Regions from separate parts of the Homo sapiens genome. Here region 2 is linked to region 1. Evidence: fine-mapped expression QTL. Tissue or cell type: thyroid. Region 1 holds a variant in brackets; the other region holds the start of a gene. All regions are shown on one strand. Distances are between the middles of the regions. Region 1 overlaps PPM1H (protein phosphatase, Mg2+/Mn2+ dependent 1H). Region 2 holds the start of MIRLET7IHG (MIRLET7I host gene).

Region 1 (16,150 bases):
CTGAATCAGCACAACAGTGTCAAAAATAAGTCAATTTCAGGCTGCAGGCTATCACCGTATCTTAAAGTTCTTAATAGTTCTTGTTGGGTGGGAACTTCAATTTGCCATTTGGATGGTACAGACAGGGTCTTATAAGAGGGTGAGTAGTGGCAGGAACTGGGGAATTAATGGCTTCCAAATATTTGCATATAAAAGGCAGGCTCCATCTGCTGACACCCGCAGTAATACAGTGTGAGGGGAACAGGAGGAGGAATCCCCTTTGCATTCTGAGCAGGCCTCAGAAATTTAAGAGGTAGAAAAGCTCTCCCAGCTTTGGAATGTTGGCAGGGGTCTATGGCAGTGGCGTCTTGGTGGGTGGAGGGTCAGGGGTGGCTTAGAATAGGGAATGGCCTTTGTTGTGCCCAGAACTAGGCAACTCATCCTGGGAAGAGGCACACATCTTAGATTCACTGCTGAGAGCTGGTCCACAGATGCCCCTTGTGTAGCTCTGGAACCGAGTTCTTAAGCAGGTGAAGCTGCTCATGCCAGCTTCTGTCCCCTGTCAGGTTATGGGGACTCCACTCAGGCAGAATACCCTGAGACACCAGAATAACGACAACTGTTGTCTGCAGTGCTGTCACTGGGCTCATTGGGAGTTTGTGTGCTGCCAGCAGACACAAAGCTGCAGACTGGAGGGAGTTCCCCACCCCCATGAGAGAGGGTGAGACGCCCTGCCAGGCCTCATCCACCTCTATGCACCCTGGCCCTGGTTCCCTGGTTTCTTAGGTGGTAGGTTTTTAGTTCAAATTCCAAACAGTAACATTTCAATACGAGGGGGCATAATAGACTATTTCCTTCTCAATCCTCCCTGGGAAGCCCTGTAAAACATCCTGATGTGGCCACACAGCTAAGGGGCCACACAGCTCTGCCACATAAACACCCTAAACAGGATGGGACGGTGGTTGGCTGTGTGCTGTTAGAGGCTGCCACAGCCAGGACCTCAGGCTGATTTCTGAATTCCCACAGATCTGAGTGTGCTAAACATTGCAAAAGAGAGAAAACTGCAGATTTTTATCTAGTCTTCAGACACCAGATCAAACACTCATGAATTTGTTCTTAAAACCAGTAATTGGTATGGTGAAAAGTGGAGGAAACCCTTCCTTTTTGCATTTAAGGCATAGTTTTTGAAAACCTTATGGCATGCAAGAAATTAGTTCAGCTAACTCATGGAAAGGTTTCATAAAAAGAACCTTTGTATTTTGCAAAAATAAATTTCATATTAGGGTAATGCAAACTAGCATTTAATACTTGAATTAACGCCTGTTGTCAGTGTTGGTGTTTTACTATTAACCTTTCACTGATTAATCTCTTCCTTCCAAGGCACACAGCTATCTGAGCCAAGGAGAGCATGGATGTGAAGACTGACAAGTGTGGACATCAGGAAGGCTTCTCTCATTAGAGACATACTCTGTAGGGTTTATGGTATACTGGTTCTTACAGATTTAATACTGCATAAATACTGCATAAAAAGCCCCTCAAGGGTCATGGCAGGGAGACAGAGGGTCATTAAATCCAGGTTACAAAAAAAAAAAAAAAAAAAATGAGGTGGGGCCAGGCATGATGGCTCACACCTGCAATCCCAGCACTTTGGGAGGCCAAGGCAGAGGCAGGAGGATTGCTTGAGACCAGCCTGGGTAACACGGTGAATTTTTTTTTTTTTTTTTTTTTTTTTTTTTTAAGTAAAAAAGAAGTTTCCACAGACAGTTTTGGGGAAATGAAGCTCTAGAGCAAAGCCTGCACAGTTTTGCCTGGGCACTGGGAATGTGAATCCATGTGCATTTCCAAGTTTGGTTAGCTATTCCCTGGCCCTAGTTCCTCTTGGCTTTGCCCACTCCCTTCCCCTTCAGTAATAGTAACAATTTATTCCTTTCTGACAAAATGGTAAGCGTCTTCTTCTCTGAGTGTTTACATATTTGCCTCCGTTTTGAATATTCTTCCCAGGAGACCCCCCCACTGAACCTCCAGCCTTACAGAGGGGACAGTCAGTTGCAGATATTTTGCATCAGAAAACCCTTTCCAGGTTTGAGTGCCTTCTCCAAATCATGTAGGATCTTTAGGGCTTAAAAGAGAACCTTACTGGAATTATAAGGAACCAGAGGACTGTGCAGCCCAACCTCCATTACCTGCAGCAACCCCACTCCAGGATGTTAGCGCAATGCATTTCCTAGGAACAGTTCATTTCGTGACCCCACAAGAGTAAAAGAACTGCCAGCTTCCCTACAATTCAGGGCAAACTGTGATAGAAAAGAAAGAAAGAAAGAGGGGCCATCTCCTCCTTGGCATCAGGGCCAACTTCAGACTCCTTGTGGAGCCCAAGATTGTCAAAAAAAGAACCAAGAAGTTCATCCAGCACCAGTCTGACCAATATGTCAAAATTAAGCGTAACTGGCAGAAACCCAGAGGTACTGACAACAGGGCTCATAGAAGGTTCAAAGGCTAGATCTTGATGCCCAACATTGGTTATGGGAGCAACAGAAAAACAGCACATGCTGCCCAGTGGCTTCCGGAAGTTCCTGATCCACAGCGTCAAGGAGCCGGAAGTGCTGCTGCCATGCAACAAATCTTACTGTGCTGAGATCATTCACAATGTTTCCTCCAAGAACTGCAAAGCCGTTGTGGAAAGAGCTGCCCAGCTGGCCATCAGAGTCACCAACCCCAATGCCAGGCTGTGCAGCGAAGAAAATGGGTAGACAGCTCATGTGCACATTGTGTTCTAAAAAACCGTAAAAACTGCAAAAAAAAAAAAAAAAAAAAAAGAGAAAAACTTACTGCACTCATATTCTGGCTCATCCATAAAGCCGCCTTTTAATTTTCTGGTTCCTTTGTTGAGACAGTTCAAAAGAGCAAAAGGACTTAAGATACACCAGGGTCAGAAAGATCATACAGCTCATTTTTACTCCCATCTCTGCCTGAGAGGATGGTGTGAGGGTCAGAACACATCTTTATGCTAATCACCTCTTCCCTCACAGCACATTCTGGAGGGGGAGATGCTATTTTAAATTCCTTGCTGGGAAGGATGTCAACAGAGGAAGACAATGCTGGCAATTTGTTTAGAATGGCTGTCACTAGGAGGTAAAAGAAAAACAAAAAGAAAAGGAACCTACAGGCAACATAAACAAAAGCCCAACAATCAAACGACAAAAGCCCCTAGTCTTGCCTGTCTCAGGCCTCATTCCCTGCCTCTTTTTGTCCTGCTTCCTTTCTAGACAAAACTGGGAGATCCTGGTAAGACTCAAAGTAAAACAGGCCCACTCAAAACCTCAGATGCAGAAGCACCTTACCCTTCTCACCGGCTTTGTTCCATTCCCCTTCCCTCAGGCTTCCCACCCTGGGGAGAACTTTTCCCTTCTCATTTTGTGTCCAACAATAGGCTGACCTCCTTTGGTCAGTTCCCTCAGGCTTGAACCCAGCAACTCTCCACTGAAAATTAAACAGGCAAACGTGTAGTCCCAGGCTACATATGGAGAAATAGGAACTCTCTGGCCAAGGAAGGGCTAATAGAGCCTCTGGAATTATAGTGGGCCTTTCCTCATCACAGAAATTATGACTTGGCAACTTCTACTCATATTTCCATTTGGCATGACAAGATTAGAACAGCTCCCAGCTGGGAGGGCACTGGCTCTTGGGACTGAGCTCTCTTTGTCCATGAGCCTCCCAAGGAGACATCCTAAACTGGTGTGTGAGTGTGGTGCCCTCCTACCAAATTACACACAGGTATGTACAAAGATGGCAAACACATGAAAGAGAACACTGTTTCACATATTCCTAAATTATGAGTTTGACAACAGAAATAGAAAAAACAACCCTAAAATTTGTATGAAACTACAAAAGACCCAGAACAGCCATAGCAAACCTGAACAGAAAGAACAAAGCTGGAGACATCACACTTCCTGACTTTAAAATATACTACAAAGCTATATTAACCCAAATAGCATGGTACTGGCATAAAAACAGACACATAGACCAATGGGACAGAATAGAGAACCTGGAAGTAAATCCATGCATTTACAGCCAACTCATGTTCAACAAAGGTGCCAAGAACATACATTGGGGAAAGGACAGTCTCTTCAATAAATGGTGCTGGGAAAATTGGATATCCACATGCAGAAAAAGGAAACCAGAGCCCTGTCTCTCACCATATACAAAAATCAAATAATAAAAACAAATTAAAGACTTAAATATAAGACCTGAAACTACGAAACTACTAGAAGAAAACACTGGAGAAATGCTTTAGGACATTGGTCTGAGCAAAGGTTTCTTGGCTAAGACCTAAATTGTCAGTCTGAAACAAATTAAGTTTCTCTGATGTCCCAATATTGTGTAATTACTTAAAGGAACACACAGGGGTAGGAAAACAATCCTCATCTTGTTTCTCACCATCAGATTTTGCAGAATGCTTCCTGGTTGTGAATCATAATGAACAAATTACATAAATTCCATATCGTTACCACAGACTTCCTTTAACACAAATAATTTTCACGTTCATGATCTCATGAGATCATGGGCCCCTGCTGACCCCTCACACCTCATCTGTTGACATTCTGCTCCCCACCTCCAAGACCAGTCAGCCACACTGACTGTTGGGTCCCAGAATGTGCCATGTTTTTTCTCCCCAACTCCCCTGACCCTTGCCTCGCTCCTGTTTATTCTTCAGGTTTAAGTGTAGACATCCTTTGCTTTAGGTTAATGCTGCTGTAATCCCTCCAGACTGTAAACTCAAAGAGGGCAGAGCTGAGGTGTGTGTTCTTCACGAGTATCTAGCAGGCCTTGGCTCACAAAATAATAGGTCCTTAGTGGTATTTCCCAAATGAACAAATCAGAATGGGAGTTATTTGTTAAGAAGAAAACCTTGACTCTTCAGTTCCTTTTCTTTTTTATTTTTTGAGACAGGGTCTCGCTCTGTTGCCCAGGCTGGAGTGCAGTGGCACCATCTCGGCTCACTGCAACCTCGACTTGCCAGCTTCAAGAGATTCTCGTGCCTCAGCCTCCCGAATAGCTGGGATTACAGGTGCCACCATGCCCAGCTAATTTTTGTATTTTTAGTATAGACGGGGTTTCGCCATATTGGCCAGGCTGGTCTTGAACTCTTGGCCTCAAGGGATCCGCCTGCCTTGGCTTCCCAAAATGCTGGGATTACAGGTGTGGGCCACTGCACCTAGGCCAGTTCTGTCTGTTAAAACACTTTTTTTTTCCTTATTTTTAGAGAGGAAGTCTTGCTGTGTTGTCCAGGCTGGTCTTGAACTCAAGCTTAAGCCATCTTCCTGCTTCAGCCTATGGAGTCGCTCAGATTATAGGCACATGCCACTGCACCTGTCTTTACAACCATAATTGTCTAATCTGCAGACTGATAGTCTATTTCTTGCTGATAAACTGTGTTCCCCTTGCAATTTTCCCTTTCATTCATTCATCCATCTGATATAGGATTCTTTCTATTGCTTTGGTTTGCCATCTTCCCCGAAAGGCATACAGAAAACATTTTTTCTTTCCCATCCTGTTTGTTCCAAAGAGATCCTTGTGAACCCTGCCTCCGTAGGCAGCAGTTCTCGTGGACCCCAGGAGCCTGCTCTGACCTGGCATGTGCACGCTGCCCACAGGTTACCACTCCTTGGCATACAGATTTATCACTCTGGAGGAAGGCTGGTAAGCAAGACCAAGCCAGCTTAGACACAGAAAAAAAGTGCTGAGTGCCTTTTAATGCATAACTGGCAGGTGGCTTTGCAAAGCTTTATAAAAATAATCATAGTAGAGAAAAATCAACATGAGAATGTTGCTAACAAGTGGGATACATAACATGAAACTTGAAAGGCGAAAAACACATTCAAATTCAAATAAAAGAATATTTAATTATAGTGCCATCAATTCCTCCACACCTGAGCTGAATTATATCAGACAATTCGAGGAGGAGACAGATGGTCTACCTTCACGTTTCCTGAATTTCTGTTGTGAAATATGTGAGACATAACAACACACACATCTATTAGTGCTTATTATCTATTAGGCACTTCACCTAATAATATATATGCATGAGGTTAATACTGTTGGAATCTCCATTTTACATATGAACAATCAGAGAAGAGTTAAGAAATTTTCCCAAGATCCTAAATCTAGAAGGGGAAGAGCCAAAATTCAACTCGGGAAGTAATTATAGATTACAGGCTCTTAACCACGAGACTACCCTGCCTCTCATATACCATTTATAGTTTAAAAATAACACAAACAACAATGTACCTGCCATCTACTTGAAGGAACAGAATATTATCAGTAAATATCTTAGAAACCCAACAGGCCTCAAGCATATATTCCCCTTGGTATCTGCCTCTTCTCCTCTCAAAGTAACCATTATCTTGAATTTTGGGCCAATTTTCTTGGTTTTTGTTATAGTTTTAATGTCTATATCCCTAAACAATATATTGGTAGTTTTCACTTCATGTACATAGAATTCTAATGTATGTATTCCTCTATGGCTTATTAAACTCAACATTATGTTTTTGAGATTCTTCCCTGTTAATGAGCACAGCTTTGGCTCATTTTGGGGGTGGGGGAGGTGCTATAAAGTATCCCAATATTTGTTTACCCGTCCCACCACTGGACACGCAAGTTACTTCCAGTTTCTGTAATAAAAACAATTCTGTGAATATCTTCTTGCATGAACGACGATGCAAGAGTTCTTCTAGGAGAGTCGGTTCTTGAATTTTAGCAGCATCAGAATCACCTGCATGGTTTGTTAAAACACAAATGGTTGGTCCTACCATTGGAGTTTTTATTTCAGGTGGGGCCTGAAAATCTGCAATTCTCTTTTAAAAAAAAAAATTTATAAAATATATATGTAAAGGTAGAGACAGGGTCTCACTATGTTGCCCAGGCTGGTCTTGAACTCCCAGGTTCAGGTGATCCTCCTGCTTCAGCCTCCCAAAGGGTTAGGATTATAGGCATGACCCACCATGCCAGCCAAAATTTGCATTTCTAACAAGTTCCCAGGTGCTGCTGATGCCATGTAGCTCAAAGGACCGTGCTTTTCAGAACCACCACTCCAGGGTACAGACCTAAGAGTAGAACTGCTGGGCTCCATAAAAACACCATTGGTATTATGGTTATAATTGTACTGATTCTATGGATCAATTTAGGTAGGCAGCTTCACTTTGGCTCCTTAGAGCCTTTAAGTTGTAAGAATTCTTGCCGGGCGCAGTGGCTCATGCCTGTAATCCCAGCACTTTGGGAGGCCGAGGTGGGCGCATCACCTGAGGTTGGGAGCTCGAGACCAGCCTGACCAACATGGAGAAACCCCATCTCTACTAAAAATACAAAATTAGCTGGGCGTGGTGGCACATGCCTGTAATCCCAGCTACTAGGGAGGCTGAGGCAGGAGAATTGCTTGAACCTGGCAGGCGGAGGTTGCGGTGAGCTGAGATTTGCGCCATTGCACTCCAGCCTGGGCAACAAGAGCGAAACTCCATCTCAAAAAAAAAAAAAAAAATTATTCTGTGTACATTTATGCGAAGAATATAGACCGAACTAGCCAAGTAACACAAGTCAGCCCTTAGGGCCTCACTCAGAAATATCTTTCTCTGTGGTTAAGGGTATCTTTCTTTTCTTCTCTGTTTCCAGAAATCAGGATCTTGTGGCCAGAGGTTCCCTGTGACACAGGGGGACATTTGGATAAAGTTAGCTCATGGCATAGAGGGATAATAGTCATTTCTGGCAGGTCAGAGGTGAATGGAGTCTTCATCTATGCTTAGTTTATTAAATTAGAAAAAAAGGCTAAAATTTCAGCCTTTACAGTTTTGATATGTATTATTATTCAGGCCCAGGTACTTTCTAATTTTCATTATAATTTTTTCCTTTGATTCATAAGTTGTTTAGAAGTTTGGTTTCTATTCCATGTGAGTTTCCTCTCCTTTACTAGTTTAGAAGTTACCCTTTCTATTATTTTAACAGTTTTCTTAGCTATTTCAACTTGTTTACTTAAAGCCTAAAGTTAAACACCATTAACTTCTCAAAAGAAGCATAGCATGTGAGCTAACACCCCTCCCTTGACAATTTGTACGCTATTTTTATGCAATATTTTAGTTCTATCATTTTTAACCCACACATTAGACATTCTTATTACTGTTTTATATAGTCAAGGTATATTTAAATATGACCACATGTTTACTAATACCTTAGCTTAATAATCCATTTTACTTCTCAGATATTTCCTGTGGGATCATTTCCTTTTCTTACCTGAGCACACCCTGTAGAAATTTCTTCAGAAGAGGTTAGTTGGCGGTAATATGTATCAGTTTATGTTTTGCCTGAAAATTTGTTTACTTCATCCTTGTTATTGATAGTTTTGCTACATCTAAAATTCCTAGATTGACAGTTATTTTTTTCTTAGCCAGCTGAAGATATAATCCCACCATTGGCACCGTTTACTTTTGAAAGTTGGCTGTCAGTCTGAATGTCTTCTTTTTTTTTTTTTTTCCTGGCTGCTTTTAATATATTTTTGGAAGGCAAAGGGGTTAAAGTTCTTCAGTTTCTTTCTCTTTTTTTTGGGACAGAGTCTCACTCTTTCACCCAGGCTGGAGTGCAGTGGCGTGATCTCAACTCACTGCAACTTCCGCCTCCCAGGTTCAAACAATTCTCATGCCTCAGCCTCTTGAGT[A/G]GCTGGAATTACACACATGCATCACCATGCCTGGCTAATTTTTGTATTTTTAGTAGAGATGGGAGTTTCGCCATGTTGGCTAGGCTGGTCTTGAACTCCTGACCTCAGGTGATCTGCCCGCCTCCACCTCCCAAAGTGCTGGGATTACAGGGATGAGCCACAGCACTCGGCTTTTCTTCGGTTTCACTATTTTATTTCTCCTTCCAGAGATTTGTCAGGCTTTCTGAATCTTAGGTTTAGTATTGACAAAAAATTCTGGAACTTCTTCCCATCTTCTATAGTTTATCCTTTTGGAATTCTTTTAGAGCACCTTAGGCCATCTTTTTAGTCTCTTAATCTCATTTCACATTGTCTTTTCTCTTTGTCTAAGCCATCTACTGGATTATTTATTAGATCAATTTTCTAGTTCACCAGTGTTCTCTTCAACTAGCTCTAATCTGTTTAATTCAGTGAATTTTTAATTCCTATTTTTAAATTTATCATCTCTAGAATTCCATTTTCTTAAAAATTGTTTAGTCATTTTTTTAGTCTCTTTTAAGACTCCTATTTTAAATGCTTTAAATTTTTTTGTTTGTTTTGAGACGGAGTCTTGCTCTGCTGCCCAGGCTGGAGTGCAGTGGTGTGATCGATCTTGGCTCACTGCAACCACTGCCTCCTGGGCTCAAGCAATCCCACCTCAGCCCCCTGAGTAGTTGGAACCACAGGCATGCACCACCATGCTCAGCTAATTTTTGTAAAGATGGGGTTTCACCATGTTTCCCAGGCTTGTCTTAAACTCCTGTGGCTCAAGTGATCCTCCTGCGTTATCTCCCAAAGTGTTGGGATTACAGGTGTGAGCCACCATGCTTGGCTAAAAAAAAATTTCTGAAGCATGTTAAAATATTTTATATTATTGTTGGCTTTCTTTTGTTTGTGTTTTGAGACCGAGTCTTCCTCTGTCACCCAGGCTGGAGTGCAGTGGCGCGATCTTGGCTCACTGCAACCTCTGTCTCCGGGGTTCAAGCGATTCTCATGCCTTAGCCTCTCAAGCAGCTGAGACTACAGGTATGCATCACTATGCCCAGCTAAAAATATTTATATTTTTGACTGCTAAATCCAATAAAGAAGTATTTACAGGTCCAATTCTGATGCCTCTGTTATTCCTGCTGGCTTTTACTCATGGTGACTTGTGTTCTAGATAAAGCTGCCTTTCTCGAGAGGTAGTTTCTGTTTATTTCTGAGAGTCTTCTAAGGATATTTAGGTTATTTACACTGCTGCTAGACTGTAAGAAATACTTAACTTGGATCTTTCTCTTCTTACCAAGTATTTCTCAAAAGAAACAATTCTCCAATGGATGACTATCAGTGCTGGGGTGCATTTGCCATCACTCTCATCAACAGGATCAGAAATGGGATTATTTCTACTTTAGAGGATAGCTTAGAGGAAGTAAAAATGTGAGAAAGGTATGCCGCTGAAATGCCTAAACAAACACTCAAATTCTTTACCACTTGTATCTACGTTCAACTTAAGGGGGATTTTTATTTGGCAGAGAAAGTACCTCTTTTTTTTTGTTTTGTGACAGAGGGTCGCTCTGTCACCCAGGCTAGAGTGCAGTGGTGCAGTCTCAGCTCACTGCAACCTCTACCTCCCAGGTTCAAGCAATTCTCCTGCCTCTGCCTCCCGAGTAACTGGGATTACAGGTGCCCACCACCATGCCCAGCTAATTTTTGTATTTTTAGTAGAGACAGGGTTTCACCATGTTGGCCAGGCTGGTCTAGAACTCCTGACCTCATGATTCACCCGCCTTGGCCCCCCAAAGTGCTGGGATTATAGGCATGAGACGCCACACCTGGCTGGAAAGTACCTCTTACAAGAAAGGTAATCCCTTCTGCAGTTTGGTTACTGTACCGTCCATATCAGCCTCTAAGTCATGAATTATGAAAATTGCATGATTATTAATTTCAGGCATGTCATGGAAGAATGCTTGAGGAACAACCCTACAATTGTAGAAATGCACAAACCTGTGAGGATCATCTGGATCACAGTTAGGAAGAAACTGAGTGATTGCTTCTGCTACTTCTTCATTTGATAAAACGTCCCAGAGTCCATCAGTGGCCAAGATCAGCACATCATCTGATCCATGATCATATTTTGAAAGATCGTAGATTCTTACCTGAAAAAAAACAAGAATACTACCACTTAAGAAATTGGAAGCATATTATTCTCCCTAACAAACTGACTTCTGATTCCCCTTCCCTTTTCCTGCCCAGCCTAGTGGTTTTCAGATATGCATTGTAGGGTACTTGATTATACAGCGAGCTGTGTGGCCAGGGATAGTCTCCCTTGGAGACTTGCTATATAGACACATGGGGCCTAATACACATTTGTGAATGAGCCTAAGCGGTGGGCTTAGTAATTGACATAGAAGAAATTAATTGAAAATGTAATGTCTGAGGTATAGTCAGAATGATGATTTATAAGTGGATTTTATGCTAGCCAGAAGATCAGCAGTGAGCTTGTTTGCTGTCTTCCTTTGCGTATTCATTCAGCAAACATTTATTAAGGGCCTACCCTGTGCCAAGTGCTATAAATGCAAAGTTAAATATCTGATTTTTCTGCTTCAGAGGAGGTCTCAGTCTGTGGGGGAGATAAAACCAATTCAGGATTCTTAGTAGCTGCTCTACATGTATTTGTCTAGGAGTAACGAGACATTCTATTTAATGCACTCACTTGAAACCTTTCTTGCATTACCTGCTCTGAGGCCCAAGCAGCCAACTCCTCTCACATAAGGATGGGGGCTCTGACACTACCTTCATGTTTCAGGAGCCTCAACTGAGGCTCACAGAAGATACACGCTCACTCTGAACCTCCAAAGTATGTCTTTGTCTTGACAGACTTAAGTCTTTCCTCATGTCTAGTACCTTAAATGACTTGGATATTTCAACACCCACCTAAGCTCTGGAAAGAGAATGAGGCAGCCTAGGCAAAACTAGTAAGAATAAAAATCAAGCCTCTCTTGGGCTAGGCCACAATTCTATGTCCATCCTACTTCAATGTGGGAGGGGAGGGATAGGGAGGTGTGGAGAGGGATTTGGGGTTTCACTGCTCTTCCCTCCTAATTTGGCAGAATCAATCCCTGCCTATTATACCATCTCATGAACTGAGAAGAAAAGCAAGTCAATTTAATCAATCCCCTTCAGCCTCCCTTATTACTCTATTTTCTGTCTTTCTAATTGAGACGGAGTCTCTCACTGTGTTGCCCAGGCTGGAGTACAGTGGCGTGATCTCAGCTCACTGCAACCTTCGCCTCCAGGGTTCAAGCGATTCTCCCGCTTCAGCCTCCCAAGTAGCTGGGATTACAGGTGCATGCCACTACACCCAGCTAATTTTTGTATCTTTAGTAGAGATGGGGTTTTACCAGCTGGGTCCCAGCTGGTCTGGAACCCCTGGCTTCAAGGGATCCGCCTGCTTCAGCCTCCCAAAGTGCTGGGGTTACAGGCATGAGCCACCATGCCCAGCCCATTCCTGTTATTTTCTAAATGCAAGTCTGAGTGAAAGCGATGGGTCAGGGCACATGTCCTATGGCACAGCCATTGTTATGTCACCTCAGATCTAGAGACAATCATATCACCTCAGCCTAGAGACTAAATCTGTTTAGGTCTTTGAAAGCCAAGCCTCCTATGTTTTAGAAAGGTTTGTCCAGGCTAGTGATGCCCTGGCATGGGGCTGGTCCTGTGGGCTGACAGTCTATTCCCAGCAGCAGAACACAACAAAATGTTTACCCACAGGGCCCTGGGTGAATGAGCTCAAATGAAAAGCAGCCACCAGGCGCCAGGCCTTTGTGGCCTGTGAACAAGAAGGTAACAATTAGCTAATGGCCCAGCACATGAGCTGCGCTCAAGGGAGGAACACTCAGGAGTACACTGCACTGGTGTTTAACATCTTCTTTCCAAAAGGCATGCTCACTTAAGGCTAAACTTATGTTCCGGAGAGGGCACTCAGCCTTTTAAGCCAAATTAAAGAAAACATGAAAGCCTCAGTTTCCGGCAGACCAGAAAGTCCCAAATGTCAGAATTCTGTCCTCAGGTCACTGACGAATGTGGTCCAATTTTCACTGTATCAGAAACAAGCAACCCTCCTATGCTTTATTTTCCATGGTTCTTCGGTGTGTTAGAGCAGAGCTTCTCAAATATTAATGTGCACAGAAGTCAGCTAGGGATCCTGCTAAAATCCAGATTACAATTCAGTTCCGGGTGGGCTTGAGAGCTGTGGTTCAACTTCCTCCCAGGTGATGCCAATGCTGCAGGTTCACAGACCGGGCCCCGAGTAGCAAGGCCAGAGAGGATTCCTACTGGGCCAGATTTGTACACAAGGGAATCAACGTCTCAGTGGACTTTATGATGACTGTGGAGACTGTTCCTTAGAGTGGGCTGTTGACAGACTGTAAATGTCACCCCTGGGCTCCTAGCTTCAAGTACTGGTTCACTGTGTTGTTACTTTCAGTATACAATAACTTTGAGAGACACTGCTAATAGGAGGCCAAGGCAGGGGGATCACTTGAGGCCAGGAGTTCGTGACCAGCCTGGGCAACATAGTGAGATCCTATCTCTACAAAAATTAAAGAAAACAATGAGACCCTGGGCATGGCAGTGCATGCCTGTCATCCCAGCTACTTGGGAGGCTGAGGCAGGAGAATTGCTTGAACCCAGGATTTTGAGGCTGTGGTGAGCCATGACTGTGCCATTACACTCCAGCCTGGGTGACAGTGAGACCCAGTCTTTAAAAAAAAAATAGTGTTTAGAGGATTGATTCCTTTTTTTTTTTTTTTTTTTTTTTTTGAGACGGAGTTTTGCTCTTGTTGCCCAGGCTGGAGTGCAATGGCATGATCTCAGCTCACTGCAACCTCTGCCTCCCAGGTTGAAGCGATTCTCCTGCTTCAGCCTCCCTAGTAGCTGGGATTACAGGCATGTGCCACCACGCCCGGCTAATTTTGTATTTTTAGTAGAGACAGGGATTCTCCATGCTGGTCAGGCTGGTCTCGAACTCCCGACCTCAGGTGATCCACCCACCTCGGCCTCCCAAAGTACTGGGATTACAGGCATGAGCCACCGCGCCTGGCCGATTCCTAGCTTCTTATTGGGTTATACCTACAATAAATTTTTGGGATAATTTGAACTCTTTATGATAGACAATATTGAGTCATAAGAGGTGGTGAGATGTGGATGTCTCAATCTTATGCTTGCAGTTAAACAGGAGATTCCATTTGCCTTGCAGCTTCTTCTAAAAGAGAGGGTTCAGGTCTGCAGATAACATCCATTTAATTTCAGAGTCTGCCCTATGAGTAGGGTGCCAAACCCTCTTTAAAGTGCTTCCTGCTGACCCAAGAAATGTGACAGGTTGTGTTATTCAAGCTGAAGTTGTCTTGTCCACACTCAAATGGAAATCTGGCCAACAGAATGGGTGTGGGTTGATACATACACACGTTATAAAATGCTACTCTTCAATTCCATCAATAAATGTAATCTTTCCCTAATTCTACCGTTCCCATTTCTATGCTCGGCTCCCTAATGTAGTTTAATTAGCCAACATGAAAATCCTTCTCAAGACCGTTCTTCATGTAATTTGTATGAAAATAATAAAAAGCTGGTCACAACCCTGGTCTGTGAAGCACTCCCCAATTAACATCTTTTGAGGTTTTTACAACCACCCTCTGTTTCCTGCCCTTTAGCCAATTTCCAAAAATCTTTGCTAACTTTCCACTTACAACTCGTGTCCTATACATTAACCTGTGATGCAGAACATTTTGCAAAAATGTTTTCAGAAGAATTGGACTGCCGCGCAAGTCATCCCACTGTGTGCTTATCCTCCCCAGCAGCAAAGGCTTCAAAGGATTCCACTGGGCTCCGGAGTCCTGACCTTCCCTCCCTGAAGCTGTTGTTGGCCTTACTCAATCGAACCATACCCACATCCTCAAAGTTCCCCTGTTCAATTCCTTAAATAGCTTCTTAATGTTCCTGGAAGCCTCACATCAAACTAATGGGCTCTGAAGCTCCCCAGGACTCAGACATCTGGAAGAGTCTTTGCAGCCCTGGAGGGGACAGGTGTGCTACAGAAACGGCTTTGAAGTGGGACTGGGGGACATGGTCAGACCTTCTAATGGCTCCTTCCCGGGTTCCCATCCACCAAGAAAGGGAGAAAAAAGCCAGACGAATCCTTGAGATTCTTGCAGTTTTTCAGAACAATATAATCTGAGCAGCTAAAAAATGGGACCTGTGTGGACCTGCCTTTCTGCTGCCTTCAGTACGCTTTTATTGCATACTTGCTGTGTGCCAACTCGTTTTCCAGGCACTGGGGACACAGTGACTAAAACTGACAAAGCCTCTCACAACTTCTAAACTAGTAGATGAGATAGACACCCAAATAAATTACAATGTCAGAAGATGAAAGATGCTCTGAAGAAAAATCCAGCATGGTAAGGAGAACAATAGAGTCATTTTAGAAGATGAGGTCATGGTGGACCTCTCTGGGAAGGTACCATCTGAGCGAGTCAATTTCCCATGGGTCCCTTCTTGCACCTCCCCAACCTTCTTTTGGATTCCTGTTACTCAGTGTTAGACTGGTGGTGAAGAAGGGAGGGCTGAGAAAGGTGGGTGTCACTCTCTCCTGCCAAAGCAACCCTAAGGAGGACCAAAGAGAAGCCATCTTTCTTTTCCCTGGTCCTCTGCAGGCACAATCCTTTCACACCCACTAATATAAGATTTACCTATATGCTTTACTGTGGGTAAATCTTTGTCTGTCAGTTTTGTGTGAAACTGTAATCATCGATTTATGGCCCTGTCCTGACACTAGACTGTAAACACCATGAGGGTTGGCATTGTTTTTTTCTGCTTTGTATCTTCAATGCCCAACTTAACACCTGGTTCACTGAATGAATAATCGTCGAAACTGATTGTTCCACAGAGATGAAGCTTTGTGCCTTGTCCTTTAGGTACAGAGAGTGATACACAGCATCTGATCTACCCTGGAAGACTCTCAAGGCTGATCCTGTCTCAGCAGAATCTGAACCTGGAATATGGCAGAATACTATTGCTTTTGCGAGAGCAACCAGGTGAAGAACAAAAAGTGAATGTGTTCCATCCCCTCATGAGGCTTCTGAAGCTTTCCTTATGATCTGATCACAACAAAGGAGACAGGCAACTGACAAACAGCACACTGGCCCTGAAACACCGCTGGCATCTTTGTTATCAGCCTTTCAGGGCCCACTTTTCTGTCTCTTCTAAAAGACTAGATATTCTCAAACCTAAATGTGTTTAGAATCACTTGGAGTGCTACCTTAACCAAGTTAAGATTCAAAGATCCTACCTGTAAGAGTCTTGATTGTACAGATCTGAGCTGCATACTTCAACAGGACCCCAGGGAATTCTGATGCAAGTGGTGGGGGGAATCTCACCTTGAAAAACTGTAACAGACGATCAACTCCTTTAGGGATA
Region 2 (16,150 bases), 62 kb before region 1:
AAGGTAAAATATGGCATTTCATAAGTTCTGCTTTCAGCATTTTCCTTAAAGTTGTAAAAAATCAAGCTATGTACTTATTTTCTATATTTGGGTGTGTTAAATTGAGGATTAGAAAAATCCACATAATCACTGATAAAGCATTGAAACAGAATAACCCAAGGGTAGTGTACCGATTCAGTAACATGTTAAAAATATTGCTATGCATTTATTCAAAGGAAAATGGTCTGTTCTTGAGAAATAAAAGATCAGTTGCAATTAGGATAATTAAATAGTTAAATATGAGTCAAGTGTATGCAATATACATTTATATGAACCAAAGCTTGCTTTATCAGGACCATGCCCTACAGTTCAAAACATAAACATAGTGAATGTGTTAATATCATATAATAAGGTAATAAATGCCAGTCTTAGTGTGAAGCAAGTGGGTGGCCCCCTTGGTAGTATAATTGGACAGGATTTTCCTCCAGAATATTTCCTGTCACCCTCCAAGAGTCACTACAGTAATTGATTGCTGGCATGGAACACATTGCCCTTGTCTTGTTAGTATGAATTGGGTTCTCCAGTGACTAGAAGAACTGGGGTGTGTGAAAGTATTCGATGCCAGGAGATTCAAAAAGGAAGCTCTCAAAGATAAGATCATTTTATGGCACAATTGAGTCTATAACCAGCCCTTTAAGCAGTAGTAAAAATGTCCTTTGTCATACTTACTAGAAATACTATGAGTTTTTTTTTTTTTTTTCATTTGAGACGGAGTCTCGCTCTGTCACCCAGGCTGGAATGCAGTGGCACGATCTTGGCTCACTGCAACCTCTGCTTCCCGGGTTCAAGCAGTTTCCTGCTTCAGACTTCCAAGTAGCTGGGATTACAGACATGCCACCATGCCAGGCTAATTTTTTTAATATTTTTAGTAGAGATGGGGTTTCACCATTTTGGCCATTCTAGTCTTGAACTCCTGACCTCAGGTGATCTGCCCGCCTTGGCCTCCCAAAGTGCTGACATTACAGGCCTGAGCCACTGCGCCCAGCCAATACCATGAGTTTTAAGCCTCACATCGTCACTTGCTGTCACTGCCAGTGCCTGTTTTATTCATATTGCTGGACAACAGACATATGCCACCAATTGTATGATTAATAAAGTCTTTTTCTGGCCATTTTGTCCATTATAAAGGAAATAAACTAATTGTTAACTTGCATAGATTACTTCTTAGTTTCCTATGCTACCACCACTGCCAAGGGAGAAAAAAATACATCATTTTGTAATGTCTTTAGTATTTCTTTATAACTAGTGTTAAGGTTTTGTTAATTTTATTGTATACATTTGTAACATTTATTAGGAGCCTTTTAGGTTCCAAAACAAACAAAAGGCATAAAAAAGTCTAGCTTAGAACCACTTTTCACTTGCTTTCATTTTTAATTTTATTCACTTAACAGCTAACATCTTTCTTGTTTCTTGTTTTTTCCATTATATGGTTATCGATTCAACTCTTGCTATATTCCTTAAATTTGTATGTATCATCAGAAGAAAGAGATGAACAATTTAGTGTAGATATTTTATTCTGGAGAATAATATTCAATTAAATTATTTCTACAGCAGGCCAGTAACAACTAGATTATTTGTCCTTTCTCAGTATAATTTTAAAGAGCATTTTGTTTTATTGTCACAATTTGGTACCACTAGTCCCAGGTAACCATTGGGCCAAAGGATCAGTTGAGAAACAGTTAAGGATGAATTAGCATAAGTTATGGAACAGTGTTAGAAAACAACTCAAAAGTATATTCTTTATTAATGAGGTGGTCATTATTACATTTGTGTCAATGAAGGGCAGTGTAGTTATTTTAAAATGACTAATATTTTCTCCCCAAATACAGAATAATTCAGATGGGCAACCAAGTTTTCAAGAGACTGCTGTAGGTGAAGTCTGTCTAGCCAAGGCAGAACACTTACAGGAGTCCCTAACTGTGCCACCCTTGGAATGGGTTAGTGTACAGGCTCAGAATATTGTGGATTACAGTTTTTCAGAGAAAACTACCACAGATGTAGACAAAAATGATCTCTGAAAGCATTGCCAGCAGCCAGGTATGTTCCTTAGATTTCCACTTAGGTTTGGCATTTTGGCAGATAAGCTAATCTTGTATAAAGCATCACATTTTACTATGCTTAGTGTTCCTGGGTTGTATTTATCTACATTATTAGAGGGAATTTTTATTTTAAAAAAATTGTCATTCATGAGAAGAATGGGAGTTCATGCCACATAGTATTTTACCAATTTATATAAAGTGGGAAAAGTCTTTAATACTTCATGATCACTTGAATTAAAGTTTTTGTATCTCTGGAAAGTAGAATAGTGCTTTCATTTGAATGAAAAGTGTTTATAGATTCAGAAAGAGAGATGATATCTTTGTATCTTGATTTATATACAGACCATTTCAGAGGAAGTTAAATGTCTTACAAATCCAATACTTTCTAATGCTCTAACAGTGTTGGCTATTTAAAAGAACATGTGGCAAGTTCTATATGAATATTCTTGGTCATCTCGACTAATTCTGAGGCAATGATGGACAGAGATGCTACTTCTTATTTAACTCTAGGCATGTTGACTTTTCAAAGCGGTTTCCTTATTTCTAAACAGAGATGATGATCAATGAGTTACTAATTCTTTAGAGGAAAAAATGCATAATTTGAGTGTGGAGTTGATTTTAATGACAGGGTAATTCAAGTTGTTTGATAAATTTATTACTATATTGTAAGAGAGATCTTTGACCATTTTTCTTCCTTTTTCTTGGACATCACTTTCTTCCCTCCCCTTCTCTCTTTTATGTTTTTATCCTTGTTAAATTTTATGTTTACGTTACCATCTTTCTTATACTTTCCCCTGATTTTTCTCTTTTAATTCCTCTTTCATTCTCTGCCTCTTCTCTTTCAGCTCTTTCTCTAATTGTGCCTATTCCTTGTTCATAAGAAGTGGAGCTGTTAGTGGTAGAACCACTGCTCATGGTTCTACCACTACAAAGTGGAAAGTAGAAATACTTTGCACTTTGGCCACTGTTGCGTTTTTGCCAAGGTAAAGTTCCCCTGCCATTTTGAAATAGCTGAACAAGTTAAAGTAATATGTTCCAAAAACTGGAAGTGCCATAAAAAACTAAAAATAAAAAAAAATTGTGACTATAACTCCTACTGTCTTTATGAATACACGGGATTCAGCAGCCAAGATGCTCACAAAATGGGATTGCTATAAATATGATGGATTCAGCACCTAAATTTGGAATAATCATGTCTTTTCTGTTATGTGGGTAGAGAGATTATATATCTTTTCTCAAAGTAAAGTATTTAAAACCTGTTTAAATGAGGGTTTTGGCTGGCGTGGTGGCCCACACCTGTAATCCCAGCACTTTGGGAAGCCAAGGTGGGAGTATCACTTGAGGCCAGGAGTTTGAGACTAGCCTAGACAACATAGCAAGATCCTATCTCTAGTTCAAAAAAATATTTTTAATTAGGGTTTTGGTTTTTTATGATTTTGGGGGGTGGGGGAGATATTTGTTTTTTTGAGGCAGACGTTTAAACTTTTAGATTTATCCCATCTTAATATTGATTTATATTGACACTGCCTACTTACAAGAATAATTTGAGGCAGCATATTGCCCATGTATTTCAACTATTTTCATTTTTCTGTTGCAAAGCAGTCTTTGATGGAAGACCCGGAATCTTATAGTTCTCATATCTGAGTCTTTCTGGAGTGTATTTGGTGTCTGTGTGATTGGTTCACCCAGAGGTCACCCAGAGGTCAATTGAAACCTTCCTAATTGTACTATGGTATTGATTCTATCCCCTCAAGTATGAAAAAATTAAATTTTCAGACCATTTTCAGTTGCTGCGAATGTAGTTACACTAAGTTTTATTTTAAACTAAAATTCAATAAACAGTGCAGCCAGGGAAGATCTGCTAAACCATGCCGTTATTTGGAAAATCATTGCAATATATTAACAACTGCTTCCTTCTATGATGTTTACTAGATGGAGAAAAATACTCCATACCTATATTGCAATTTTATTTTTATCTAGAAAAAGAAAATATTAGGCTTCAGACCCAACTGTGCAAATTTCATTTGCTTTCCATCTCTTACTACTACCTCTGTGTCATAATTTAACACGTAACATACAACTCCTGTCTCTTAAGGCAGCTACCATATGGTGTTTATGTCAGACTGGATATATTTATCTAATTTTGTGAAATTATTTTTTAGTTCCCAACACAATTCTTGAAAGTAATACCACTGTTGTTACTCTTTCTCCTTACAATTTTTATGTTGTTGAGATGTATCAGTTATGTATTATAATCATGAAATTGTATTGGCCTCAAACCCAAATTTTCTTTGTAGTCTAGGATAGATTTTTCATGAAAGCTATATAGTTATAACTGTGATTGTACAGATTGTTTATTTGTTTTACAGCTAACATTAAGCATGATTCCAGGTTTTTAATTATGTTCCAGCAACACTAGTGTTTCTTTATAACTTAAAATCATAACCACTTTGATAATTTACCTTTGGATCTGACCAGTGATTCATTTTTTTCTTGAATATACTTTGTGTTTGCTTTCTCATCCCCGTTAAGTCTGAAACATTATTGACACCCCACATCACTTACTCTGTTTAAAGACTTTACGAGTAGTGAGTCACATGTTTAGGATGATCACTTTGGGAAAAAAAAAATTATAGAGTAAAGGGGAAATGTTCTTGAGAGCTTTATTAAAACCATTAATATATAAAATGAAAAAATAATAAACAGAAGACACGAAGTGTCTCTCAATAGTTTAGAAAGAAAGATTTGGAACTTTAAGTAAAAATGCTAGGTCAAGTAAAAATCCTGATGTAGATTAGATTATCTTAATCTTATGAGCATTTTTTTTTAATTTGGTGAAGCTGTTTTGAAACTGCCTGTCCATATCAATGCCAGACTATCTCTCTACCTCTCAAAGAAAATAATTTGCATTAAAATTCCTTTTTTTGTTATGTAATGAAAGTATAAAACAAGAATTTGTACGTTACTCAGTGTGTACTGCAGTCAGATATAGTTAAAATAATTTTTCTGATGCGTAATTTTAACCACCATTTCTGGAGTACCTAGTATGTGCAGGCCAAGGCTTTGCCTATATTATTCCCTTTAATCCTCAAAGTAGCCTTGCAAAGAAGTTATTTTCATTTTACAGAAGAGTCAAGGATTAGGGGGTTGAAGTGAGCTGCCTAGAGTCACATACCTAAAGTCCAGGTGGATCACTATGTCTTGCTTTTTCAAAAGCAGTTCTTTCTACTACAGTACAATAGTTTCATGTTTTACAGTCCATTAAAATCCAAGACTTATAAAATAAACTAAAAATACTCTTGAGGCAATTACTATTTCTATGATGGGCACTGGGACAAATATACTTGAACATAACAAAGAACTAAAAATACTGTGAAAAAAAGATTTGTCTTAACGATGACCTTGAAAGTTGCATTGGGTTTTTATTATTGGTCCAGGTTTAAAACATTTTATCTATTTAAAACATATGTTGTGTGTTTTAAGAAGTTATGTTATAAATAACAGCATTGTGGTTAAGAGCCCAGAGTCTGGGGCCAGGCTTCTTAGATGCAAATCCCAACTCTGTTATTTTACTAAATGTGTGACCTTGGGCAAGTTAATTAACCTGTTTTGGTGTCCTCCTCTGTGAAATGGAGTTAATCGTGGTATTTAACAGAATTCAAAATGTAGTGTGTTCTAAAGCGCTGTGCCTGGAGCATCATCACCACTAGGTGGTTAGGGAAGTAAAACACATTTGGCACACATCATTCAAGAATGGCCAGAAAATCCATGTCTTCCCACAATAGGGACCAATTTTTTGCCTTTCACCAGACAACCACTGAATGTTAAGAATCTACTGTGTGCTAATAACTGTGTCCTTGCTGTATGACAGAAGCTATTTGGAGCGCTCTCAAGTGCTTATTACAGCTAGTCAAGGAAACCGCATATATAAAATAATACTGGATACAAGACTATACAATTAAATACTGGTGTATCACTAACAACTGTTTAGACCCTGTTTTTGCGTTAAGCATTGGGTTAGTCTCTGTCCTCATGGAGTTTTCAGTTTTATAGGGAATACAGACCTTTTAACAAGTATGTAAAGTACAGTAAAAGACAAGTACAGATTAAAATGAAATCATAAAATAGGAACCTTAGCCTAGTCTTCTGTGGTTCAGGTTAATAGTGCTGTTAGTAGTCAGAAGGAAGTTTTTTAAAGAAATGAAAAAGCTCAGTGGTTAAGATAGAAATTAAAGTTAGTCTTGATGGCTACCTAGATTTTGGATGAGTTCAAAGGATATACGGAGGGATTTCAGGCAAGATAATGTGAGCAAGGCATATCTGTGAAATAGAAAACAGTGCATTTTGGTGTATTGTGTGAAACAAGGTTGGTTGTGAAGGATTGGGTCCCTTCATAAAATTCCTTGAAAGCCAAGGAGAGTAGTTTAGATTTGAGATGGCAGGGTCTGGAGTGATTTAAGAATAAATTATAAAACCAAGGAAGATAAACTTGCAATCATAAGCAGGATAGGATATATACAGTATGGAAAGCTAAGCTAGAAAGCTGTTGCAATTTTCTTGCTATGAGGTGATGATAAAGAATTGATTAACGGTGGTCATATTCAGAAAGGATACTTAAGATTCCTGATATGCAGGGAGGGGGGAGAAAAAGTTGATGGTAACAGTACATTATATGTGGATGATGAGTATATTGGTGTTAGCACTGTTAAAAACATTATGGAAAGGAATGTAAGTGATAAAGTAGTATAATGACTAAATTTAGTTGGAAACTACTGCTGTAACAAATCTGTATACCATAGACCAAACAGGTGTTTAGTGGCCATTTAAAAATCTGTGCCATTATGGCAAAGGACATTTGCTTTGGTACAGAATAATCTGATCCACTGCGCAGTCAATGAGCAGTGAGGGTTGATTCCCATGGCAGTCCAATCTTTGCTTATCAAGGAAGGATGGTGTGAAGTTTCTACAGACTTTCTGGTAAGTGATTGATAGATGAGTTTATGGTGTGATTGAGTTTTTGCTTTGAGTTTATGCTTAGTGATTGATAGGTGAGTTTATGCTTTGTCAGGTAAAGCATTTAACTGCAAATGTATTATGTTTACACAAATATTCTTAATTGGAAATAGTTTCTGAATATGCACCTAAAAATGTTCTTATGAAATATGTCAGGCAGGCTGATTTTTAACTTGAAAACTTCTACTTTAAGAAATTGTTTGGGTCCCATCGCCTATACCATGTAGAATAGAAACAAAAAGCCAGTTATTTAATTTTTAATTTGCAATTAAACTCTTGGCCAAGAGGATCTGTTGTCCAAAATTACATCGTGATAGCTTAAGAAAAAAAAAATCTTACTTTGCCAGAAAGGGAATTATACAAGGATATCTTTATGAGTTGCTGCCAAATTTTGTTCTAGACCACGGCCCTCTGGCCTCCATGAAGGATCAAAGTCTGGGCAAAGACAATTCTAAGTTGTAGGTAAACATGCTTTTCATTTCCCTCCATTCCTTACTTTTGTCATAAGCAGTCTGGATTTTCAGGGGTAAAGGCTGATAGGGTTGCCAGATACAGTCATTAAAAATTGAGAATGTGCAGTTAAATTGGAATATCAGATAAACAATTTTAAAAATATATGTAACACACATATGCCAAAACACTGGTTATCTGAAATTCCAATTTAACTGGGCGTCCTGTATTTTATCTGACAAGCCCTAACTACTTCTTTAAAATAATTTGTTAACTTCCTACAAAAAATCTCTAAATGGGAGGAAAAAAAAAATCCCGTAAGTTGTCTGGGCCAAAAGCAGAAGTGGCTCCATGGCAGTCAGCCTTCTCCCTAACTTGGCTTAAAAAGAAAAAGCCAAAACCAGAAGTCCCAAAAGCTTGCGTTTAAAGCGGGCTGTGCCGCAGCTTTCCCGCCTGTTTTCTGCGGAATGTAGCACGGCAGCCACCCCGCGTGGGTGGGGCTCGTATGGTTGTGTCCTTGCTGGTTGGGAAAGGAGGTGCCGGAAACTTCAAACCACGGCCAGGGTACAACGTGTCCGCTTAGGCGGCGATATGCGCCGCCATCTTCTTTGCGGGCAAAGGCCGAAAAAAGTTTGGGACTCCACTCCCCCCCGCTGAGCCGATGGAGGGCATCGCCCGCTGCCTCAGCACTCTGGTGACGTGGAATCGGGGTCCCCTCTTTCAGGGCTGATTTCTGGTAGCACGCTGACGCCTGCCAAGGCAGGGAAAGGGGACGCCGCCTCTGTCCCGGATGTAAGATGGCGGCGCGGGGGGCGGCCTGGCGGGGCGGTCACGTGGTGAGGAGTAGCGCGCGAGCCTCCTTAAGTGATCTCTAAGGTTCGTCCGGACGCACAGGAGCAGCGGAGCGCGAGACGGGTCTTGTGTCCGCACGCGTCGAGTCGTCGCAGTCGCCACCCGGGCCATCGCCGGGCCCGGTTTCACTGTTAAGGGGTTTTCGTTTGTTCCGTTTTCGCCTCCTGTAGAGCTGAACGGGAATTCCCCGAAGGGTGCTGGGGAACGGGTGGCCTGGGGACTTCCCGGCTATGCCTTGGCTGCTGTTTGGCGGAGCCGGCGGCAGCCTCTGCGGGATGCCCGCCGGCGATTATCGGCGCCGAGAGCGGGCCGGCGGCGGGTTCGACAGCGCGGCGCGGGTGGGGGCCCGGGTACCGGACTCGGCCGCAGCCCAGCCCCCACCGGGGACTCGGAGCAGGGAGGGGCGCGAGCGGCGCAGCTCGGGACGTGGCGGCAGCTCCTAGCGGGCGAAGCGCGGGAGCGCTGCTCGCTGCCTCTCGGGGGCAGTCCAGAACCAGTTGGTGTCTGACTGCGCTTTTGCCGCCCATTTCCTGCTTTCGAGCGGCTGAGGCGACGCGCTCCCCTCGGGCAGTGGAGGGAGCGGCTCTCTCCGCAGGACACCGCCGCTTTTCTCTCTTCAGAGCGGTGGCTGACGTACAGAACGCCGGCTGTATCACCCGGGCGCCGGCGCCGCCTCTCATCCCCGTAGCTCTCGGGGCGCGCCGGGAGTAGCCGAGCCGCTGGGTGCTGGGCGGGGTCTCCGGGCGCGGCGCGGGGGGAAGGCAAAGGAAAAGAAGGGGCGGCGGGCCGACGTCGGCGGCGAGGAAGGACGGAGGAGCGCCGGAGCCGCTTTGCTGCCCTCCGCGTGGTCCCGTGCCTCCCCGACACCATGGCCCTGGCTGAGGTAGTAGTTTGTGCTGTTGGTCGGGTTGTGACATTGCCCGCTGTGGAGATAACTGCGCAAGCTACTGCCTTGCTAGTGCTGGTGATGCTCAGCGCCGCGGAGGACAATGGCTGGGAATCCCCTTTGTTTTCCGGGGCGCTGCCTGGGGACAGCCCGCGAAGCCTCGGCGCCCGGCCGGCGCGGCCACCACGGAAACCGTTAGTTTCACATTTTCCTAGAAGGAATTGAGGGGAGTGGGGTGGACCGCGATGCATTTTAAAGGTTGGGAAAGAGCTAAGCCATTGGATTCCTTTTCTTGAAGGAAGGAGTGGAATTGTGTAAGATAATTGATACAGATAACTTTTTCACCCTAAAAAATTCTAACACTTCTTTCAGCAGTTAAATGCCAAATTTAGTGTGTACCTGTTTTACTTCATTCTTTAGCTGTAGGTTGGAGTGGTGTGAGCGATCTGCAGAACTGGCATTAGAGGGGCAGAAGAAGTAGACCTGATAATTAAAGTTTATGCCTTAACATTTTAGATCTGGTTTCTGATATGCTCTCTTAGTAAATCTGAGTGTGTCTTTAAAAACGTAAACCCAAAGCAATTTAAAGTTTCTCTTTAAACTTTGCAACTCGCGAATGAGAAGATTGAAATTATTTGTAGGTAATTGCACTATTCCGATTTTTTAATGTATGAGGCAAACAAATAAATTCTATGTACAGTGTGCTGTGAATGGTTTTGTTTTTTGTTTTTTCTTTTTAGTTTAACCTTGGGGCTCAGATTCTGCTGGTGTGGTGGGTTGGTTTTTTGGTTTTTATGGCCTTTGATTCTAATGTTATGTGGTACTTACATCTTTGAGGTTTTGTATGGGAGAAGAGGACTAGGAATTGAAAGTGGTTTCTAGATTTGAGTTTAAAATCTACTAACACTCATTTTGATTCCTGAGTGGCCACTACTCCTAATAGGAAAATACCTTTGCATAGAGAAAAAAGGTAGTTTGGATAACTAATGAAAATACTCAGTGCTCTAATACCCTGAAGTCTGCGTGGAAAACAAGATACTTGTATTTTTATTTTATTTTCACTGAGGGAAGTAAGTGGTCAGTTTTAGTACTTTTCGTTGAAAACTGATCTGTATTTGTACAGAATAAGTAGTTTTGAATATAATGTAATCGCAGTTTTCTATGGTTTTCTGATGCTCAGTTGAAAAACAAATAAGGCAGTTCTTTAAACCAACCAAACCCTTCAGCAGGAGTTTGATGCTTTTATCATTCAAAAGTGATCTAATATATGTGCCTTGATTGGGTTTGGTTTAGCCTTGAGAATAACCTTACTTAATCTGATCTCATCAGGATGGAGCCGCCTCATTGTGGGAAGGGCGGTGAAGAACCTTATCTTGAATCTTAAGATGCAGAAAATGCTTGAATGTTGGCTCTTGAAGTTTGCTTTTCTTGATAGCAACGCAGAGTAAATTCAGGGCTTTGTTAAGTGCTTGTTTTCTTAAATAATGAAAACCTCTGCGGTGCTGTGTCAAATCTTGGTTTATGGAGAAACTAATCATAACATGCTAATTTCATTATGATTTTATTTTCCAAAACACTTCATTCAACCAACCGAGGTAATCTTCCAACCCACTACACTCTAACATTTTTATGGAGAATCAACGGTTGTTAATCTGCACCCCAAAGTATAACAAATTCTGCTGGTAATTTAAACTTTAAGCGGATAAGCACACCAGAAATGCTCAATGTCCTATACAGATAAACTATTCATACTTTATATCTTGTGTTTTTAAAGTAAATTTTATCCACAACTACATATTGCCCAAATAGTAGTAACATTTTTGAGTTATTGGATGTAAAGGTACTTTGAGAGGTTAACTGTTTCCTAAGTTACAAGAGAAAATACTGCCACCAGCTGACTTGTTTTAATCCCATAGCTATATTTCTGCTCTAATCTCCAGTTTTAAAAATGATCTGCTAATTACATTTCTCTACACACCAACTGAAAATTACCAACTGAACATTTTCCTTGTTGACAGTTTCCCACAAGATGAATTTGATTTATCAAAAATACAGCTTTCTGAACTTAGTATTATTGACATTTACTTGGTGCAGTTAACTTTTTTGTTAAAGGTCTGTTGTCAAGCATTTAAGTAATTTGTAGTTGTAAAAAGCCACTGGTGGAAAGTAATAAGGCAGTATTTTGAGTGCCCTTCTCAATAAGTACATACTAAACCAAAGGAAAGCTGGGTTATGGTAATAACATTTTAATAAATGTCATCCTCAATTGGAAATGGAGACTGTGTTATGGTATATAGGACACACCATATGGAGAAGATTCTTGGAGAACACAGTTTTGCTTCATACTTTAAAATTCCTGATTGCTAATCTTACATAGAAAAGCTTTGTTTACAAGCTATTTTAAAATAACCTTTTGGCAGGTAGGCAAGACTGACTGGCAAGGGTGCACTCAAGACATTGTGTCTTGTGGAGTGGTCCCCAAAGAATTCCTGACAGAGGCACCTGACAGCACAAATTAGCTCTTCAGTGTATAAGCACAAAGCACCAAAAAGGCTGAGATTTCTTCCTAGCTACATGCTCTCTCCCGCTATTGTTTATTACACTCCACCCGCTCCATGGTGAAGCTGACAAAGGAGATACTATTAATTTCCTTTCCCACTGAATAATCCCCTCTGTAATTTCTACAACAAAAGGTAAATAGGACAATCATCTTCGAAAATGAATTAGGCCAGATTGGTAGTACCCAAAAGGAGAATTAATGACCATTGTCATAAACTCTGAAAAGCTGTTGGCGCTACTGATAATCTAGATAATTAAGCAAAAATTTGAAAATTATTTCTAAGATTGTCTAATGAAGTTCACTAAGTGTTTTTGTTAGGTTATCACTATTGGGCACCATGGGGAAAGCAAAATAATTGTATAGCTAGGTCATTGCCCCAAAGGAAAACAGGAAAGATGTCACATGAAGTGTTTAAGAATCAAAATGTAATTAGCTGAGTGTGGTGGTGCCTGCCTGTAGTCCCCGCTGAGGTGGGAGGATCTCATGAGCCCAGGACTTTGAGGCTGCAGTGAGCCATGATTGCACCACTGCAGCCTGGGCAACAGAGTGAGACTGTCAAAAAAAAAAAAAAATCAATGTGAGCTCAGTGCAGTGATGTGCACCTATAATCCCAGGTACTCTGGAGGCTGAGGCAGGAGAGTCACTGGAGCCCAGTAGTTTGAGACCTGCCTGGACAAAATAGTTGAGATTCTGTCTCAAGAAATTAAATAAATAATCAAAATGTGGGCAGGTGAGAAAAACATTAGTGACCTACTTCACTTTTGAGACCTGGCAGAAAAGTGATTGAATGAGCTAAGGGGGAAGGGAAGTATGGAACACTTCAAATAGTATAGTAATTTAGGGAGTTCTTTTGGTTAGGTTTGTTGCCTGAGATCTTGGAGATGACAATCGCAGTGATAATGATACTCTAGGTGATTTACAGTTTAGTTTCATATTATCTGCTACAAATACGCTGGGAGTGTCATCAGAATTAAAAGAAATATTAGCAGTTCTACATGGAATTTATGTGTTTTCTTATCTCAAGTTGAAAATTTTTTTTTTGGTTAAATTTGTTTTACATTTACCTTTCTTTAAAAGTGCTGTTTTGTTCAGATGTAATGGAATTGTGCCTACACAGGATTTTTGGCCACTAAATTTGTGAATAGGGTCCTTTAAAGGCATACTATTGACACCCGATAGTGTAACTTTAGTCTTTTAGTTATATCAAATATGAACAAACCTAAGACACAATCTTGTGTTTTTAAGGATAAGTTCCTAGTTCTTTCCTCTTATTCAACATCAAACAACACTTACAGAAAATATTATTTTCTTCGAATCAGGTTTACAAATTCCGTTAGTTCCATTATAATATAATTGAGAGTATTTTATCATGGAAGTCAGGAGTTCGCAGAAAGCCAAGCTGTGTGATATGTCACAGAAAATTCAAGTAAATTAAGGACTAAAAACTGTCCACAGACATTGACAGTTTAGATCATATATGTAGTTGTAATGTGTTTTCTGTTATACCTGAAAAATCCCTTAACTGCTCTTAGGTTGAGTAATAAACAATTAACGGGTGTTTTATCTCACTTTGAACATAACTACCAAAAAGGTATTAAGATTCAGAGATTGCTGTTTTAATATTCTGCACATAGTGTATTTTAAAGCCCTTGTTAAACAGAAGTATTATGTAGATACAGGCATGGGCTAGTTTTAGTCATAATAGTAACACTGACTTAATGTTACCGTAATAGATGGCCGAAAGAGTTGACTAAACTCTAAAAACAGATACATAAGCAAATTAAAGTATATTTTTCTGTTTTAAAAACAAATTTACATACTTTTTAAGAGTTCGGACGAAAAACCTAAGAATAAGAATCCTATCTGCCATTCATTTCTTTTTGTAGTGAATGAAGCTTATACAGAATAAATAAGTTCCAGATAAATTCAACAGGTGAATCGGATACCTGCTCTATGTCAGGTGCTGGGAATATACAGAAGATAAAACAAAAACAAACACAAAAAAACCAACTCCACATTATGGAATTCACATTGTAAAAGGAATACATTTCCCTATAATAATAATTACAGACATGTAGTGAGGACAATCCATGGGCCACCTGAGTTGTTTTCAAACCTGAGTTCCACTCATACACCTGTTCTAGAGCCCTTGCTCCAAAACCACTATTGATATTCCAGTTGTATGTTTTAAAAAAGCCATTTCCCATTGATTTTTGTTATAATTGTACCTATTTTTTTTAAAAAAAGATGATAATTTAGTTTCACCAGGGCTGTTTTCTTTCTTTCTTTTTTTTTTTTTGAGACGGAATCTTGCTCTTGTTGCCCAGGCTGGAGTACAATGGCACGATCTCGGCTCACTGCAACCTCCACCTCCCAGGTTCAAGCAATTCTCCTGCCTCAGCCTCCTAAGTAGCTGGGATTACAGGCGCCCGCCACCACGCCCAGCTAATGTTTGTATTTTTAGTAGAGATGAGGTTTCACCGTGTTGGCCAGGCTGGTCTCGAACTGCTGACCTCATGATCCGCCCACCTTGGCCTCCCAAAGTGCTGGTATTACAGGCAAGAGCCACCGCGCCTGGTCAGCCAGGGCTGTTTTCTATCTCCTAAACAGGATAACACTGCAGGAGGTACTTCACCTTTAAGAGCTTACAATGTTGTAGCAAGTGCCCAACTACCTTGTGGAGGAATCTAGACCCCATAGCCAGACATCACATTTTATGATGTACACTCTAAACATGGTAAAAGTTCAAAGAAGCAGGAGTGCACTGTGAGTAGGTAGAGAATGCATCTCTCTGGAGCAGAAACGTCAGATTATTTTAACAGTATAAGCTATGGAGAGCGATTATGAGCCTTGTGGTGCCTGAGAACAGGAAAGAAAGAAGTATCCTACCTTCCTTATATAATTTATACCTCGGGGTAACTAAATGGTTGTGAGGGAGATTTCCTCATTACAGAATAATTCCAGTTTCACAGTGCAGAACGTCTGATAGAATGTTAACATTTACAACAGCTCATGAAATAAAGCTAGACCTCTTCAATGGCTAACTTAATGGTTGAAACCATTAAGTAAAATGCTGATGGAGAAGTATGTGATTAATGAATCAGTAGTAGAGAAGTATTTAATTCATGGATCAGGGCAACCGCACTTCAACTCACTGATCAATTTTAATATTACAAAAACAGATAACTAGATATTCTAGTTCAAATAATTGAACTAGATAGTGGTTTACTAAGACTCTAGACTCTCATCAAGTTTCTAGATCTGATGAGTAGTTTATTAGAAATTTAAGATATAGGGGAACATTGTTAAATCACCACAGGAGCACAAGTAGCAAAAATCCACACTGAAATTCTATAAGACAAATGATCTAAGGAAAAAAAATTTTTAAGGAAAGAAGGGCAGGAAAACCTGTAGAGTAAAATGAATTTAAAGATATTTATCGGTTTAATTGCAATGTATAGACCTTGTTTGGATCCTAATTTGATCAAAGCTAACCACAAACACATTTATGAGACAATTGGAGAAATTTTAAAACTGACTGAATATTAGAAGTTAAAGAATTGTTTTTGAAAATGGTATTGTGGTTATAGTTTTTAAAAATCTTTTGGTATATGCATACTAAATAATTTACTAATGAATGATATGATCGGACTTTGCTTCATACTTTAATCCATGGGGGATGGGAAGCATATATGGGAGTACACAGGAAAGAAGCTTGTCTTAGTGTTGGTATTGATGATGGGTGATGGGTAGATGGGTTTTTTTATTCTGTTCTACTTTTGTGTATATTTAGAATGTTCCATAATAAAAACTCAAAAACACGTAAAACAAGACAAAGAAAGATTCCTGTGGTTTGGAGACAACCAAAGCAAAGTGAGAACACATACAAAACCATGTGAAGGTCAGTAAGGTGCAGCTAAGTGTTCTTAGGGTATCCTCCCAGGCCACTTTGAAATACTACCTTGAAGTCTATCAGAGGATCAGTCCATTTTCCTTATACTCCAGATCAAATATATTGACTAATATAGTGCAAGTTCACACATACCCACAACAAGGATACCATTGTTTAAATATATCTATTATAATTAAAACTAGTAATTAGAATTAATAAGAGATGTGTTGAGAACTTTTACTAAGTACTTTGTATGTATAAAGTACTTGCTTTAATGTTAGCCTATTAAACTTAATAACTTTCCATTTTAAATATTATTTTTCTAGTTCCATAGTCTTTTTCTAGAAGTATGCCTTATTTCACATTCTTAAACAAGTACTCTAAGCAAAATCAGCTCACTAAAAAAATTTGTTTGGCTT

Evidence for each region. PIP is the estimated chance that this variant, and not a neighbour inherited with it, causes the effect.
Region 2: it holds the start of MIRLET7IHG, and the variant in region 1 is fine-mapped to the expression of MIRLET7IHG in thyroid (GTEx, PIP 0.97).

The regions. Positions count from the first base shown.
Region 1 is chr12:62,656,497-62,672,646 of GRCh38, forward strand. It overlaps PPM1H (protein phosphatase, Mg2+/Mn2+ dependent 1H), which reads right to left. Exons shown (of 10, transcript NM_020700.2): 9 at 10,682-10,833. It also overlaps the pseudogene RPL32P26. Among named protein-coding and RNA genes, the nearest start is that of MIRLET7I, 61 kb to the left of the region's middle. RefSeq lists enhancers at 2,426-2,951, 2,453-2,747, 2,952-3,478. The variant A/G (reference allele first, on the strand shown) is at 8,681.
Region 2 is chr12:62,594,419-62,610,568 of GRCh38, forward strand. MIRLET7IHG (MIRLET7I host gene) reads left to right here and starts at 8,325. Exons shown (of 2, transcript NR_186001.1): 1 at 8,325-8,417. MON2 (MON2 regulator of endosome-to-Golgi trafficking) reads left to right here. Exons shown (of 35, transcript NM_015026.3): 35 at 1-6,058. It overlaps LINC01465 (long intergenic non-protein coding RNA 1465), which reads right to left and starts at 9,016. Exons shown (of 1, transcript NR_121682.1): 1 at 7,333-9,016. MIRLET7I (microRNA let-7i) reads left to right here and starts at 9,268; the gene lies at 9,268-9,351. RefSeq lists enhancers at 7,619-8,142, 8,143-8,664, 8,179-8,288, 8,369-8,558, 8,665-9,186 and 1 more and silencers at 8,639-8,948, 9,039-9,338.